2 separate regions of the Homo sapiens genome follow, and region 1 is linked to region 2. Evidence: fine-mapped expression QTL. A gene starts in region 2. The other region holds a variant in brackets. All regions are shown on one strand. Distances are between the middles of the regions. Region 1 overlaps CEP120 (centrosomal protein 120). Region 2 holds the start of CEP120 (centrosomal protein 120).

What was found.
Region 1: its variant is fine-mapped to the expression of CEP120 in whole blood (INTERVAL, PIP 0.99).

The regions. Positions count from the first base shown.
Region 1 is chr5:123,341,837-123,346,836 of GRCh38, reverse strand. It overlaps CEP120 (centrosomal protein 120), which reads left to right. Exons shown (of 20, transcript NM_001375405.1): 20 at 84-1,945. The coding sequence ends at 318. Among named protein-coding and RNA genes, the nearest start is that of CEP120, 79 kb to the left of the region's middle. The variant C/T (reference allele first, on the strand shown) is at 2,342.
Region 2 is chr5:123,420,450-123,425,449 of GRCh38, reverse strand. It overlaps CEP120 (centrosomal protein 120), which reads left to right and starts at 2,047. Exons shown (of 20, transcript NM_001375405.1): 1 at 2,047-2,500. The coding sequence starts at 2,452. RefSeq lists a silencer at 2,347-2,506 and an enhancer at 1,836-2,781.

The DNA.
Region 1 (5,000 bases), 79 kb after region 2:
CCATTGAATCATTTTGTTTTTAAATAGTGACATTAAGAAAACCAACACAGTTGCTACAGTGGCATTTGTTCTTGACTTCTCAGGTTAAGGCAACAAGAGCAAAAACAATACCAGGATTCCACAGAGATTGCAAGTGGAAAAAAGGATGGCCCCCATGGCAGTGTATTGGAAGAAGGTTTGGATGATTATTTGACTCGCCTGATAGAAGAAAGGGATACTTTGATGAGAACGGGTGTGTATAATCACGAGGATCGAATAATAAGTGAACTCGACCGACAGATCAGAGAGATTTTGGCAAAAAGCAATGCCAGTAATTAATAACATTTGGAAAAGCTTTATAGAGACTCTAAGTCTAAATTTTAATTTCTTTGTAAAAACCTCAAAAGTGAGGAAAATGGATGTTTTAAAATGGTATTTTCAATTTTTTATAAGCAAAATTTTGTATGTTATTGTATAGTATTTATTTGATCTTATTTACTTTATGCTACCTCTCCCACACTGGTTTTATTTGTAATTTGCATTTATATACTCATTTTAAATGACTTTTCAGTGTTTTTCATAGTTTATAATCTGATGGCTAACTAACTTTCAAAACAGCTTTTAACTAAGTTTGTTGTAGGAGAAATGACTGCGGTAATTTCCAGTTCTATAATGTTTCATGTTGAGCCAAAAGAGTATATCTTGCACTTTAAAAACGCTGCGTCCTATTCCATTTGAATGTAAATTCTTAAAAGTTGAGACCAATTGTAACCAGTTTAACTCATTTTAGATGACCTTTTTTTCTTATAATATTTGCAAGTGACAAGTTTGAAAACAAAGCAAGATCAGTGCAGAGAAGCCACATGACATGTTGGGTGACAGATTGGTCATTTATTTAAATAAAGTTAATACAGATTAAATTTGTTTCAAGAGCTATTGAATTTTCAAATTTTCAGTGTATTTATAACTTTTAAGAACATGAAGTATTAGCTTAATATAGTTTTCTCTGTTGGTTTCTTCCTCAAGTTTGCATTGTTTTCTTTTGTTAAAATTAGAGATTTCTTTTTATTTTCCAGTTATAGTAATACTAGCTGTCAGCTTAAACCCTCTGTAATAGAACATGGAAACAGACACATAAAGACATTAGCTGAAAAAATAGAGTGAAAATCAACTATTTTTTACTCCCGCTAATTTCAATCAATCGTTTTCAAAAGCGCACGAGATTCACTCATTGGATTTATGCAGTGCCCTGTCTGTATAAAAACTCTTAAGAGTTCCTTTATATCATATTCTTCAGAGCCAACATTTGTCCTCAAAGCAACGTTTCCCACCTCCTTTTACTGAGTACTGAAAAAGTTTTAGCAAAGTCACAGATTAGGTTGAATTTCAAAATATATGTACTTTAAAAAGTTCTGATTTCCAAATATAATAAAGTTAAAATTAAGTATATACTTTAGGAAGTTACCAATAACTTCCATCAAAGCAGAGTAGGATATATGGTAACATTAATTTTCGGTCATTTCAAATGAGGTATATTTCTTATTAGGGAAATTAAAGTCCCTATATTTATTATATATTTTTTCCTTATTAACAGAGTATTAATCTAGTAAAAAATAACCCAGCAGTAAATAATAAAGAAATTACTGAATGAGAGGATAATGAATCTGAATCATAGCAGGAATTTGCAATATTAATTATGGTTAGCTATTTTTCTCTCATTGATTTTTGTGCCACTTGAATGGAACAGAAGCAAGCCTTATGTTTTGGAAGGTCTGCGGTAAAATGCTGTGACTGTTTACTTTCAATTGCATTGTGTGTTGCCTGTGACTGCTTTCAAACGCTAGAGGGGGCCTCTGATTTAAAGAAATAAAAAGGACTTTTCTAAAATGGATGTGTAGTTTATTTTGCCTTTTGTAAAGCTCTTTTGGCTATTGTAACTTAACAAATAAAATCATAATTGTGTGCATCTCTGAGTTCTTGAGCAGCCTGTTACTTCTGTTTCTAAACAGAGTGGGCATAGTGTTCGGGTTTTCCTATTTCAAATGACTGTCTTTTTTTCTCAAGTGTTTACATACTATTTTTTGTCTTACAACTAGGGGAGTCTGAAATATTAACACTGTTTTGTAGTCCTTTTAGCAATACCCATTCCATTTGTAAGTGGCATCGAATGTTTTTACACTGATTTTGCCTAGGAGTTAATGAGTATGACCACAGTAGATAAATCAGTGAGTGGGTGCAGGCATGGGTGGGTGAATAAGTTTCCTAGTAACAGGAAAATATCAAATATTTTAGGGTAAAATCAGATTTACCTTTAAAATTTCTGTGGTTTTTCATGGAGAAAGTCTAGTTTCCATGTTTAATG[C/T]GGGCATGTACTGCATAGGAGGGGTGTGTAATCTACCAGGTATATCTAATACCATGTCTGTATAAACATAGGAGTTCCCTTGCAGATAAATCCTAGTAATTTCTATCTGGACCCGAATTCCTGTTGCTTCAAGCAGATGTGGGGGTTTGAGTGTGATTTAAGGACGTATTAGGGCCTCTGCTGATGGGGAGACAGTCTTGTCTGACCAGATGATTTTCTCCTCTACTTCCTGTCCAGATGCTGCCCAGCCTGAATCTGAATTCACAGATTGTCCCAGTATATACTGCTTGTTTGCAGCCACTTCAGAATGGACCGACCTGTTTTTTACAGTCCATAGGAAGGGCCCTCTGGTAGCTATATATGGACTTAAAAGATGTGTTCTCACTAATACCATTGTGTCTAGCTTTATTGAATACCTAAATTTTTTATTAAAATAATTGATATAATTCACACAACGTAAAATCACCATTTTAAAGTATAAAATTCAGTGTTTGATACAGTCACAAGGCTGTACAACCACCACCACTATTTAAGACATTTTTATCACCCCAAAAAGAAACTCCTGTACCCATTAGCAGTCACTCCTCATTCTCTTCTATCCCAGCCCCTAACTACTAATCTTTTGGTCCCTTTGGATTTGCCTATTCTGGGCATTTCATATAAATGGAATCCCAAATTGGATATTTAAAATAGAAAATATTAGAAAACCTAAAGCATATCTTTTTCTATCACTAGTTTCTATATGTTTTGTCAGATATTGAATTAAATGATACAGAGATCCAGAAGGCCAACATAAGGGCATAATATTCATCATAATATTCATCATCCATTGGGAATAGAGTTCAACTCTTCTTGTATCTATCACCTGTAAAGCACTGACCAAAAATAATAGTGAAAAGTAGATAATGTTCTAGCAATTCTGATGCTGAAAATGGGTTATTGACACAAGGCTTGTGTCATATCATTGGTATCTCATCAAAATTGCACACTCTTCCATGCTTTACAGAGTTTGGAGATAAAGTGAAGCAGTGTTAACCAGAATGTGAGGGCTGCGAGGGCAGCGACCAGGTCTATCTTAGTTTCTTCCAGAATTAAAAGAGTACCGGCCATAAGTAGGCACTCAGATAATATTCGCTAAATTCATAAAGAAATGAAAAGATTGTGTATGGTCTACCTGTCAAAATAGATGTAAAAAATTTGACGGCTGAAATGCAGGGGAAAGTAGGCCTCCATGGCCTCACTGACAGGTTTATGAACTTGTTGTCTGACTGCCCATGCCCTATAGAAGTGGAGGAGTTCTGTTTGTTGGATTGTTTTTTGCTTAAAAAAAATAATAATAAAAGTTTGCTTTAAATTCATAGATGCAGAAAGTAGACTAGCGGTTTCCAGGGGCTGGAAGGAACTAGGGGAAAAGAGGAAGGGGGAATTACTGTTCAATAGGTCCAGAGTTTCTGTTTGGGATGTGAAAAAGCTCTGGATATGGATAATGGAAATAGTTGCACAGCATTGTGAATAATTCCACTGAATAGTACACTTAAAAATAATTAAGATGGTGCATTTTATGTTCTGTATATTTTACCACAATTTAAAAGTTTGCTTCAAACTGTGCCTCAAATCTGCCTACCCAGTGTTCTTATGCTGAAAGTTTTCTGCACAAGAGTCACTTGTCAAGTCATTTCTGAAGATAACATCTTGTCATTTCTTGATTGTGGAAATGGATCAAAAATGCTTCATTAAATGCTTATAGCACCTTTACCAAAATCTGAAATGAGTGAAAACTAATGGCTACATTTATATCCTGAGTTCTAAAGATAAATTGGAGACTCCTTGAAACTTAGAATTGTAATGCCTTCATGTTTTATAAGATTATGTCTTGTTATTCTTAATGACAATTTAGAAAAAAAAATGGTTTTTAAAATTTAACAGATAGTCCAGACCATGGATGTAAATTGGAGAGAGAATTAAAAAAAAAAAAAAAACCCAACACATATTACTAGTACCCTAAAGTAGGCTTAGTATCTTTTTTTGGAGGTAGGTTCTCTTACTGTTGGTTCATGGTCTTATTAACGAATAAAGTGGTTTGTGTAAGAGTGTTAAAGTCTGGCTGAGTAATTTTAAATTATGACTTGAAAATTTAAATCCATCTTTGACGTTTGTGTTTTGGCAATTGTATTAACAGCATATCCCTTGGAGCCTAGACGTTTCGTCGTACACTTTTTCTGCCACTTGTTCTAGTGTACAATCATGCTTCTTCCTAGCTAATGCGCCCTCTGCTTCTAGGTCTCGGAGACACGCAATCCATCCATATTGGCATAAATGGGGAAACAGAGACAGAATTACTGAAGCACCTAAATGTTCTACTGAAACCAAAAGAACTAGATTGCTCACTGATTTTGTTACATAACCTCTGTTTGGCATCAAATTAGAATCTGCTGTTGTTAGGAATGTAACCGTAGAAAGGCTGCTATATACTTAATTCCCATTTTATTTGCTTCTCTGGGGGTTGTCTTAGTGTTTTCATTTGAAATGTTTTTACAGATGTAGGCTCTTCAGATATGAAGTTGCTGAAGTGGAGACTCCTCAGAAGTTTAGCTTTCAAATTGAAGGGGGGTGGAAATCTGTTTAGGAAGATTAATTTTTAGATAAATAATTTACTGAC
Region 2 (5,000 bases):
GTGGGGATTACAATTCAAAATGAGATTTTGGTGGGGGCACAAAGCCTAACCATATACATTAAAAAAGACAAGAGACATACCAACCATTGTATTTTGGAACTTGTTTGGATCCTGATTTGAAAAAACCGACTGCAAACAAATTATTAGACAATCAGAGAAATTTGAACAGTATATATTTAATGGGATTAAGAAATTTTTGTTAATTATTAAGTGTAATAATGGGATTGTGGTTAAATACTTAATATTTTAAGATTCTTTAAGAAGTCGTTATCTTTTTTTTTTTTTTTTTTTTTGAGACTGAGTCTTTCTCTGTGGCCCAGGCTGGAGCGCTGTGGCATGATACCGGCTCACTGCAACCTCTGCCTCATGATTTCAAGCGATTCTCGTGCCTCAGCCTTCTCGTGCTTCAGCCTCCCAAGTAGCTGGGATTTCTGGCTTGCGCTACCACGTCTGGCTAATTTTTGTATTTTTAGTAGAGACGGAGTTCTGCTATGTTGGCCAGGTTGGTCTCGAACTCCTGACTCAAGTGATCCGCCCACCTCAGCCTCCCAAAGTGCTGGGATTACAGATGTGAGCCACTACCACACCTGGCCAAAAAGTCTTCATCTTTTAGAAGTACGTATCCAAAAAGATGAATTGATGTGATGTTGGGGATTTCTTTAAAAATAACACAACAGATGAAGATGATTGGTCTTAAGTTGATAATCGTTGAAGCTGGGGTCTGGGTAACTGGGGGTTCATTATATCATTCTGCTTTCTTTAAAGTATGTTTGACATCTTCCACAAAAATAATGCATTGTTCAATGATGAATCCAAAGTAGATCATTACTTTGATTTTACATTGAATAGTGCTTCATTTTAAGAATGCCTGTGATAGGACCTGAAAGGGCCTTAGAAGTAATTAGTCCAATCTCTACATATTCCTCCTTTTCTTTTGGGCAGAAAGCAAAGAAGGAAGAATAAAGAAGAGGAAGAAGAAAACAATAGTGATATTATATTATTTGCTCTCAAAATAACTTCTAAATTTCCAAAACAAGGAAGCAATAGAAGAAAAAGAAAACAGCGAGATATTATATTTGCTCTCAAAACAACTTCTCAATTTACAAAACCAGAAAGTAATAGGAGAAGCCGCACTTATGTCCACTACCTAGTGCTATCTCTGCAGCTTTATTTTATTATGATTTACTTTTGTTTTCCGAAGCAGAATTTTTCCCAAACTTAATAGTGTCCACGATCGCTCCAACCAATTCGGTTATTTAAGTTTCAAGCTAGATAACCTCCAAAAGAACTTTGCCTTTGACTTGAATACATGCTTCTTGCAATTTGAGTAGTGTTTAGGAGGCCGTTCCCTTTACAAGTCTTGAACCGTTTCTTAAATCTGAATTTGGGAGACGTTAAGGGGAAAGGGTCGGCAGACAGCACCTCAATGCCTTGTTTATTTTTGGTTTTGAGTTTGCTAATAACTTTGTCATCGGGGGTGGAAGAACCTTTATATTTCATTGCCCACGTGACAGTGTTTTTGTTTTAGGGGTAATTTCTAAGGGACAGGAAATTCTCGGGGAGTTTACGTCAGCTTTAACAAGTACAGTAATTACCGTATTGAAGCTACTTGTTTTCAAAGGTCGGAAATTTGAGGTGCCGCGTGAGCACGATTTAGGGACTTTAGAGTTTAGATTTAAGTCATTATTTTTTTGTGATTTAATTTTTTAAGCAGTGTTGACACTGGGTACGTCAACTAAGCTAGGTTTTTTTGTTTTTTTAATCCCCACTAATATAACTCTCAGGTTGTGGCTGAAGCATAAAGCAGGTAATACGCTACACTCACGCTCCTTAAAGGCTACGCAGCTTCAGGAAGCGTTTACAGCAGTAGTGCGCTTGCGCAGCTGGTCCCACACCAAGTCGCCCGCCTCTCCTCGTCCGGCTAGCAGAGGGCGCTGTGAGGTAATGAAGGCGTCCTCCTTAGGGCTCTGGAACAGAGCGTAAAAGGGCGGGAGGCGAAGCTCGCTGACGGGCGTTCTAGCCTTGACTGCTCTGTCTCTATCACCCGTTGTCCTCCAACCTCCCCTGGGCACTGGGCCTGCGGGCCTGGTTGCTAGGCGGAAGCTGGGCGCGGCGGCGGCCGCTGCGGCCGCCCGGGCGTTTGAAAAGCGGCTACGCAGGCGGCAAAAGGTCCTCGGGTGGCGGGCTTGTCTCTGCTTGCAGACTGGCAGGGCTGCAGCGTGGCTTTTTCCTTGAGTCGGGGCACAGTTAGGATCTGGGCTGGCGGCCCGAGGCAGAGGAGCCGGGCGCGCTGCAGCAGACGGCGGTGGGACCTGGCTGCGGAGCGGGGTCCGGGCATCAGGGACCGGGGGCGGGCAGTGGGGGTCCCGCCGGGGGTCCCGGATTACCCGCGACTCAACTGGACCTCACTTCCCCCCAGCCGCCTTCGCCCCCGGACCGCTCACCGCAACCATGGTCTCCAAATCCGACCAATTGCTCATCGTCGTGTCCATCCTAGAAGGTGAGCAGCCTGAGGCTTGCTTTTGCAACTGCTGCCTCCCGAGTTTTAAAAGCTTAGTGTGGGACCGAGGCCTTGTTAACCTTAAGAACCCTGTCATCTGTGCTTTTGTGGTCCCCACAGACTTGTTCAAAGTTGTACGTAGTGAGGTCTGTTAGGCAATTGATTTAAAAATCTCTCCAGGGATATGAGCGCTATTAGGGATAAGTGATATTTAGCGTGACTAGCCGTAGCCCCAGAGAATCTAGAGAAAACGATTTTCATCCAAAGCAGCACGTCGATGGCTTTTATATATGAGCTGAACGTGGTCCTGAGAAGCGCGTTCTGATCAGCGGTTCCCAATAATAGCACTTGTAAGAGCTTTGACTTGAATACAGGCTTCCTGCGATTCCAGAAGTGTTCCGGAGGCAATTCCCTTTACACGTCTTGCTGGAGGACTCAGGGGACTACAGTTCTTAAGAGGGTGTATTATACATTCCTTAAAAGGTGTGTTTTGGATGAATGACATTGGTTTATTGGGACTCATTGAGTGTCAGACACTGTGCTGGGAATGTAAGAATGAAACAGTCCTGATTCTAAAAAGCTAAGGATGTAGCAAGGAGAGTGTGTCAGCAAATAATTCATCAGGATGTGGAAGACCCTAATGAATGACCACCTCTGTCTAAGGAAACTGCGGAAGTTTCACTAGAGGAGGTGGCATTTTTTGGGGTCCTACAGATGATTAGGAATTTGTCAGGTGAAAAAAGGAAGGGCATTCCAGGCAAAGAGAAGAGCAGGGAGCACTTAAAGTATGGAAAAGCAAGACACGTTTTGCCTTGCTTAATTAAATTCACTCAGTAAACATTGGTTAAATTCAGTGTGGTTGGAGAACAGATTTGCAAGAAAGTGGAGGGCATAGGAGATAACAGGTGAATTGAGGACACTTTACGAATAGTATGTTAAGAAGGAGTCATCTTGAGCCAGAGCAGAAGCCTGGCTGCATTTTTTCCCCCATGGGAGAGTGTTTTATAAAGGCCTGGCACTGTGTGAGGGATGAGAGCAAAGGAAACATTGTAATCCTAATCTTTGAATTTTGGAACAAGAGACTGACCAGAAAAGCCATAAAGATTTGGAGCACTATTAACTGTTAGTTTACTTATTGTTTAAAAACATAGGACTGAAATAACCTTAAAATTTGGTTAACAACAGTTTTTAGACTTATAACTGACCATGCTATGAGGAAACAAATACCTCCATTCCCTCCAAGGATGTAGAGGTCTGTCCACGTGGGGAGATCACAGGACACAATATGTTGGGGTATAATATTTAAAATATGTGATATGTACTGTAAATATAGGTTTGAGGGTAGGGTGGGTGGGATGGCTGAAGTTCTTTAAATAATAAGTGAGCTTTAGATATGTGACAATAGAATTCTATGGACAACCCAGGCCAGTCTGACAACCCAGGACATAAATGCAATTCATTTGGGGAAGCTAGTTTTAGAGCAGCAGAAAATGAGGTCCTGAGAGAGGCCTGTTAGTGCTAATTGGGAGAGCTGTGCGATGTGTGTTAATATTCCTAATACAGAGTTTCAAGTGAGAGCCTCAGGCTTAAACTCAAAAGGTTAGCAGTCAAGGTCTTTCTGACCAGCTTGATTCCCAACCAAGTAGCTTGTGCCGGGGTGAGCATGGTGGGTGGAACATTGAAAAGATCAGCAAGATGACCAGGGTAGAGGAAGGTGAATATTTAGAAATGTCATGGTAAGAAATGAGCTTGTACAACTGGAGCGAATAGGCCTCAGAGGATCTTGAAAGCCAGTTTAGAATTAATGTTCCAAGAAATAGGTTGGCAGCATATATTCCTAAATAGAATGCTTTTCTTGAGTTCAGTTTAGTAGCAGTGTGCAAGGAAGAGAACCTGGAGTCAAGGATGTCTGTTAGGTTGTTTCCACAAACATACCCAAAACTAGCATGTGGTCCTCCCTCCAAACTATTCTTCTCTCTTGTTCGTACTGTATTTCCATTCATCATAACCATGCTGTTGCCTTAAGCCAAGAACCAAGGAGTCATCCTCAGCCTGGATTCACTCTCCATTTCTAACTTCCAAATGGTCATCAAGTATAATTGATTTTATTTTCTGAATAATAATAGATTCTACATACGAGTTTTTGAATGAATGAGTTTACATTGTGAGTGCCTTGGTAAGGGGCCCTCATTATCCACCTAACTTACTGTAATAATCTTTTCAGTAGTCTGATTCTTCAATGTTTTCTTCCTTTCCAGAAACATCTAGACTTCCTCCTTTACTCCCTGGGGATGATCTTTCTGAAATGCAAATCTGATTTTCTTAAAGTCCTTCAGTGTCCTAAAGGATAATGTCTGTATTTCTTAGAATGGCATACATGGCCCTTTGTGGTAGACCTCTTGCCTACCTTTTCAGTCTCATTTCCCCTCATGTATTCTCATCCCTTTGGCTTGGTGGAGGACTCGGGGGACTACAGTCCTTAAGAGTTAACTTGCAATTT